Linked DNA regions of Homo sapiens. The protein of the gene in region 1 purifies or fractionates together with the protein of each later gene. This does not show direct contact. Each region holds a gene or a part of one and is shown in the gene's direction. Other genes may lie near its edges.

Region 1 (3,500 bases):
AAGAGTTAGGGAGACCAGATCTGCTGAGTGGCAGCAAGAGTGAGCTGCAGATTACAGAAACCAGGGTGAGCAAGTTTGAGTCCCACACAGGGCCTTCTCCCTTTGCCTCTTTCCCTCCCTCCCTGCCTGTGATAATCAGCCAGGAGCCAGGGATAACCTATGACTTGGGAAAGAGATGAGTTAGGCAGTCAAGGGTGACATTCAATCAGGGATCCACAAGTGGCTGGAAAGAAATGCTGGTCCTGTGTCCTAACTTTTTCCGCCTGGAGAGCCCTCAGTGTGGCTTCTTACATTTAAAAAACAAAAAGGATCAGCTGCCAGGTGTGAGGCAGTCCCCAAGCTGAGTTGTGAGGATGTAAGCATGAATAAGTCCCTGCACTCAAAATGGTCAAAGAATTAAACCCCATGGACTTTTTTGGCATCTGTATGAAAGCTTGGGTTTTCTGAGGACTGTCTTGCTATAGTTAAGTCAGATCCTAGATGAAATATACTTGTTCATACTGTACTAGGTTCTTAGGAAACAACAGAATTCCTCAAATGCCAAAAACAAAGAAAATAGAAACCCAGAAAACAAAACAAAATAAAACAAAACCATCAGAACTGTGAGTGGAAACTAAGGTGATGATCTGGGAGCAATACACTAAAATCTTGGGTCGAGACCTATATGAAGGCTGGCAGTGGAGCTAAACCTGGACACACTGAAGACAAGGGAGCTGAACCAGGGCTCCTACATGAAGCAGGGATAACTGATGGCAGTAAATGTGGTCTCAAATTGCAGATGGTCTGGAGGAAAATTTCCCAAATTTAGAGCCTCAGGATTCCCAAAGATCCTCCAAATATGAGCTCACAATCAAAGATCAGAGACGTTGAAAAATAAAAAACACCTTAAGTGGGCAGCATAAAAAACAGCTAATTTAGAACCCCAAAGGCTTCAGATGTCAGAATATTAGAGACTTATGATAATAAGCAATATTTGCAGAGTATTTGTATGTGCCAGACACTATTGTAAGTGCTTCATCATGTACTGATTCATTTAATACTCACAGAAATCTGTGAGATGGGTATTATTCTTATCCTCACTCTATGGATTAAAAAAACTAAGGCACAAAGTGGTTAAGCTCCTTGCCTGAGATTATAGACTGTAAGTTGAACGTGAGCACTTGGAATACAGAGTTCATGCTGTAAACTACCACACTATAGGGCCTCCAATATGATAATTTATAAAATATTTGAATAAAAAATGAATACTAGTTCCACATTTTAAAATCATGTTTAACTGTGGTCAAATGCACATAACACAAGTTGCCATCTTCACCATTTTTAGGTGTATAGTTCAGTGGTGTTATGTACATTCACACTATTGTGCAGTCATCACCACCATCCATCTCCAGAACAGAAACTCAGTACCCATCAAACAACTCTCCATTTCCCCCTCCTCCCAATCTCTGGCAACCACCATTGTGCTTTCAGTCTCTGTGAACTGGATTACTCTGGGTACCTCATTTAAGTGAAGTCATGCAGTATTGGTCTTTTTGTACTTGTTTTATTTCACTTCACATTGTGTCTTCAAGTTTCACCCATGTTGTAGCATGTGTCAGAATTTCTTCCCTTTTTAGACTAAATAATATTCTATTGTTTATACGAACATTCAGGTTACTTCTATCTTTTGGCTATTGTGAATTATGCTGCTGTGAACATGGGTGTACAAGTATCTCTTTGAGGCCCTGCTTTCAATTCTCTTGGGTATATTCCCAGAAGTGGAATTGCTGGATCATATGGTAATTCTATTTTGAATTTTTTGAGGAACTGATATATTGCTTTCCATAGAGACTGCACCATTTTACATTCCCATCAACAGTTTGCAGGAGTTACTATTTCTCCATATCCCCCCTAACACTTGCTATTTTCTGTTAAAAATGGATATCTTAATAATCAAGCAAAAATAACAGGCAGATTTGAAAAAGAACTGAATACAGCTTTTAGAAATAAAAACTATAATTATAAAAATAAAAAACTAAGTGGATGGGGTAAATAACAATTAAAACACCAATTAAGAGAGAACAAATGAACTGGAAGATAAATTGAAGAAGTGACTAGGCTTAACAGCAGAGAGAGATAAGGAGATTAAAAATATGAAAACAAGGCCAGGAGCAATGAAGCCTAGAATGGTAAATTCTAACATATCCAGAATCCCAGAAAGAGAGAATCAAGACAATGAGAGAGAGACAGTACCAAAGAGATAAGAGCTGAGAATGTTCCAGAATTGATAAAAGGTGTGAATCCACAGAACATACACCACCATAGTGTACACGCATACAACCAAGGTGGAAAAATTAGAATAAATCCACACCTATGTACATTATAATGAAACTGCAGAACACCAAAGACAAAAAGAAACTCCTTATAGCAGCAGAGAGAAAACCCAGACCACCCACAGTACCACAAATCTACCACAATTAGACTGACAACAGGCTTTCCCACAGCAATAAAGGAGCTAGAAGTCAGTGGAAGTATATCTCCAGCATGCCAAAAGATAACAATCAATCAGGGATTGTGAACCCTACAAAACTATCTTTCAAGAATAAAGGCATTTTCAAGAAAACAAAAACAGACTTTACCATCAACAAACCTTCTCTAAAAGAATATATAAAGCATTTACTTTAGGAAGAAGGAAAATGATCCTAAAAGGAAGAACCAAGAAGCAAGTAGCAATAGTGAGGCAATTGTGAAAATGTAGGTAAGTCTAAACACACTCTGTCTACTTCTTCTTCTTCTTCTTCTTCTTCTTCTTCTTATTTTGAGACTGAGTCTTGCCCTGTCACCCAGACTGGAGTGCAGTGGCAGGATCTTGGCTCACTGCTATCTCCACCTCCCAGGTTCAAGTGATTCTTCTGCCTCAGCCTCCCGAGTAGCTGGGATTACATGCACATGCCACCATATCCGGCTAATTTTTGAATTTTTAGTAGAGATGGGGTTTCACTGTGTTGGCCAGGCCGGTCTCAAACTCCCGACCTCAAGTGATCCCCCCGCCTCGGCCTCCCAAAGTGCTGGGATTACAGGCGTGTCTACATATTATTAAAATAACAATAATATTTATTTTGTGGGTTAATTTTTTTTGAAACAGATATTGAATTTATTGGTTGGCTATGAGTAGAAAAATACATCAGTAAAGAAAAAAGACCCTGTATATAAATATAATACTAGCTAGTTAAAATTTGACCAAGAAGTTTCCATTGTGGGTTAATTTTTAAAGGCCTAACTGAAATATGGAGTAACCACAGCATGCAGCATGTAAATTAAAGGGGATAGCTGGAGTTAAAATATTCTGAAGTTCTTAAATTGTCCAAAAGGAGGGTTAAATATTAATGTTATGTTACATAAAATGTTTGTACTATGTTCTAGATGGTTAGTTAAAAGAGTAATCACCAAAAGAATGGAAATAAAAGTGTGTCACTTCCAAAACAATTGAAAGTAGCAATTGATGAATAAAAAACAAATAC
Region 2 (3,500 bases), on another chromosome or scaffold:
GGGTTTCTCCATGTTGGTCAGGCTCCATGAGGTCAGAGCTCCTGACCTCAGGTGATCTGCCTCCCTCAGCCTCCCAAAGTGCTGGGATTACAGGCATGAGCCACCGCGCCCAGCCTATGTGTCAGTTTTATTGGGAGGTAATAAGGCCCTAGGAAATTCTTGTTAAAAATTGACCATTATGACTAGAAAATCTATTCTAAGTTATTGACTAGACCAGTGATAAGCAAATTTCTTAAGGGGGCAGATAATAAACCTTTTGCCAGGCTATACAGTCTCTCTTTTAGCTGTTCAACTCTGTGGGAGCAAGAAAACAGGCACAGACTGTGCGTAGTGAATGGGCATGCGGGCTGTAGTTTGCCAGTCCCTGGAGTTAACTTTAAATGCAATCAAACAGCCAACACTTACTAAGAAATAAGTCCTTGGACTTAAGTAGTCAGTAAATTTAATTAGTAGTGTAGGAAAAAAGTAGCTCTACTAGTAAGGTAAAATTAATATTCTCATGTGAATTTTTAATTCCCAGAGTTTTTAGTCAGATTTGAAGTAAGGCTCTTTTATCCTTAATACATATACTGTGCTTTTACCTTTCTACTGATGTGCTAATTCTAGAAAAGTTTAGAAGCTGATTATATAAGTTCTTTCTTCCTCTTTTTTCTTTTTTAAAGATCACTATGTTGTAGTTGGGGCCCAGAGAGATGCATGGGGCCCTGGAGCTGCAAAATCCGGTGTAGGCACAGCTCTCCTATTGAAACTTGCCCAGATGTTCTCAGATATGGTCTTAAAAGGTAGAGTACAAATTTTGATTCTTTTGAATATTGGTGCACTGCATACAGTTCTAGATGTTATACTGTGCTTTGCTCACTTTGCCTGCATTCCTGTGGTTCTCATGCTAGACTCTAGTTCTTAAATACAAGGCAGATTGTCTTTTGTTGTAGCTGCCTTTTCCTTTGAAACAGCTTTCCATAAAGTGTCTTAACTGTGCTAGAAATCACCAGTTTCTTTGAGACAGTGGAGTTACTGAGCCCTAGTGCTTAGTGTGGTGGATCCAGAGTGATAAGGTGGATCATAGTCCCTAAGCAATCTATTTGAAAGCAGTAGCATACCTCTCTACTCATGTACTGAGGCCTAACAGCTATTGAAATTTTGTTCTGTTTATTCATTTATTCATTTTTTGAGACAGAGTTTCACTCTGTTGCCCAGGCTGGAGTGCAGTGGTGTGATCTCACTTAGCTCACTGCAACCTCTGCCTCCCGACTTCAAGCAATTCTCCTGCCTCAGCCTCCTGAGTAGCTGGGATTACAGGCACCCACAACCACACCCGGCCAATTTTTGTATTTTTACTAGAGACAGGGTTTCGCCATGTTGGCCAGGCTAGTCTCCTGACCTCAAGTGATTCACCCGCCTCAGCCTCCCAAAATGCTGCTAGTGAGCCACCGTGCCCTGCCTCTTTTGTTTATTTTTGAGCCTTTCTGTCCTACTTTCCACTCTTTCACACTCCTACCCACCCACACATTCAAAATCACGTCACATTCTTGAATCTTTGGGTCTTAGGGCAAACTGCAATGCTTAACTTTAATACAGAGTACATTAATGGAGAAAAAGATACAGTGAGGGAAGTGGGAGGGATGGAGGGCAGTGTGATACATGTAACCTCAAAAGGTGCTGTCACAAATATAGTTTCTCTGCAAACTCTTCTTGTAACTTAAATTTGTGAATTTTTATTTTATTTTAGAATTATTTTTTTAAAAATCCAATGTTTGGATTTACCTCTGAAGATTTTTCTCAAGATGTGCATCATCATGCTTACACTGTTTTCAATGATCTCTGGGTCCAGAAGTTAAGGAACTCCAAGAATGAAATTGTGAAAGGGTGACTACTGGCCCCTGCTATGTACTCAAAATCTTATTTGCAGATCTCCTATCTTGCTCTTTGTAGGTTACTTTAAAAAAAATTATTCCTATTCTTTTATTCTTTTACCTGGGGTCTCAAAAAAAGATTTTGTTAGTTTTTTTTTTCTTTTTTGGCTCAGAAAAAAAAGATTTTGGAATCTGCTATCTTGGAATTAGACCTTCTGATTCATCTTAAGTGGGATACCTTCCATCCTTGTCTGTGTATAACCTTTCCTCAGGTAAAGCTAACTTTTTTCTCTTTCAGATGGGTTTCAGCCCAGCAGAAGCATTATCTTTGCCAGTTGGAGTGCTGGAGACTTTGGATCGGTTGGTGCCACTGAATGGCTAGAGGTATTCTTTATCATCCCTTCCCATATTGGACACGAGCTTGTGGGCTTAGGCTGTTGTCCAGAAGTGATGTTTTTATAGGTTTGATTTTACCACTTTTGCCTTTGCGTTTAGTCTCAGTAGAGTCCAGAATTGAAAATGAATCCCTAATGCTACTGTATGTGATAAATAAACAGATTTATACTTATTAGTGTTTTCCCTTCTCTTCTAGGGATACCTTTCGTCCCTGCATTTAAAGGCTTTCACTTATATTAATCTGGATAAAGCGGTTCTTGGTAAGTATCCCTTTCATTAGCTGTGTATGAATTCAGGTAAACTTTTTTGAGATGGAGTTTTGCTCTTGTCGCCCAGGCTGGAGTGCAATGGCACGATCTCGGCTCACTGCAACCTCTGTCTCCCAGATTCAAGCGATTCTCCTGCCTTAGCCTCCTGAGTAGCTGGGATTACAGGTGCTCACTACCACACCCAGCTAATTTTTTGTATTTTTAGTAGAGACAGGGCTTCACTATGTTGGCCAGGATGGTCTCGAACTCCTGACCTCAGGCGATCTGCCTGCCTCGGCCTGGGATTACAGATGTGGGCCACTGTGCCTGGCCAGATAAACTACTTTGAAGTGGAAGAAAGCTTTTTTTTTTTTTTGAGACAGGGTCTCACTGTATTGCCCAGGCTAGAGTGCAGTGGCACAATCTTGGCTCACTGCAGCCTTGACCTCCTGGGCTCAGGTGATCCTCCCACTTCAGCCACCTGGCTAATTTTTTTTGTAGAGATGGGGTTTTGCCATGTTGCCCAGGCTGGTGTCAAACTCCTGAGTTCAAGCATTCTATGTCAGCTGCCCAAAATGCTGCGGTTACAGGCATGAGCCATTGCCCTCAGCCTGTATCTTAACCTTCCTTTAAATAGTCTGTCAAGTTACACAGTGAGCACAATTGCTTGTCTAGAACAGTGGGTAGTTCTCAGTGTGGCCCCCAGATGAGTAGCATTAGGAACTGTTACGAATGCAAACTGTCATGTCTACCCCAGACCTTTGAGTCAGAAATGGGAGTGTTGGTCTAAAAACTGGGCTTTTTGGGCTGGGCGCAGTGGTGCACGCCTGTAATCCCAGCACTTGGGAGGCCAAGGCAGGCGGATCACCTGAGGTCAGGAGTTCGAGACCAGCCTGGCCAACATGGTGAAACCCCGTCTCTACTAAAAATACCAAAATTAGCCGGGTGTGGTGGCGAGTACCTGTAATCCCAGCTACTCAGGAGGCTGAGGTAGGAGAATCAC

The links.
Region 2: the proteins of TMPRSS4 (region 1) and TFRC purify together in Homo sapiens (affinity purification with mass spectrometry, with the first as the bait; one large-scale study listed by BioGRID). This does not show direct contact.

What each region holds. Positions count from the first base shown.
Region 1 is NC_000011.10:118,118,578-118,122,077, forward strand, and holds the end of TMPRSS4 (transmembrane protease serine 4), read left to right. Parts: 3' UTR 1-3,313; downstream 3,314-3,500. UniProt on the Homo sapiens protein: Plasma membrane-anchored serine protease that directly induces processing of pro-uPA/PLAU into the active form through proteolytic activity.
Region 2 is NC_000003.12:196,061,591-196,065,090, reverse strand, and holds part of TFRC (transferrin receptor protein 1), read left to right. Parts: intron 1-662; coding exon 663-782; intron 783-2,151; coding exon 2,152-2,237; intron 2,238-2,445; coding exon 2,446-2,509; intron 2,510-3,500. UniProt on the Homo sapiens protein: Cellular uptake of iron occurs via receptor-mediated endocytosis of ligand-occupied transferrin receptor into specialized endosomes. Endosomal acidification leads to iron release.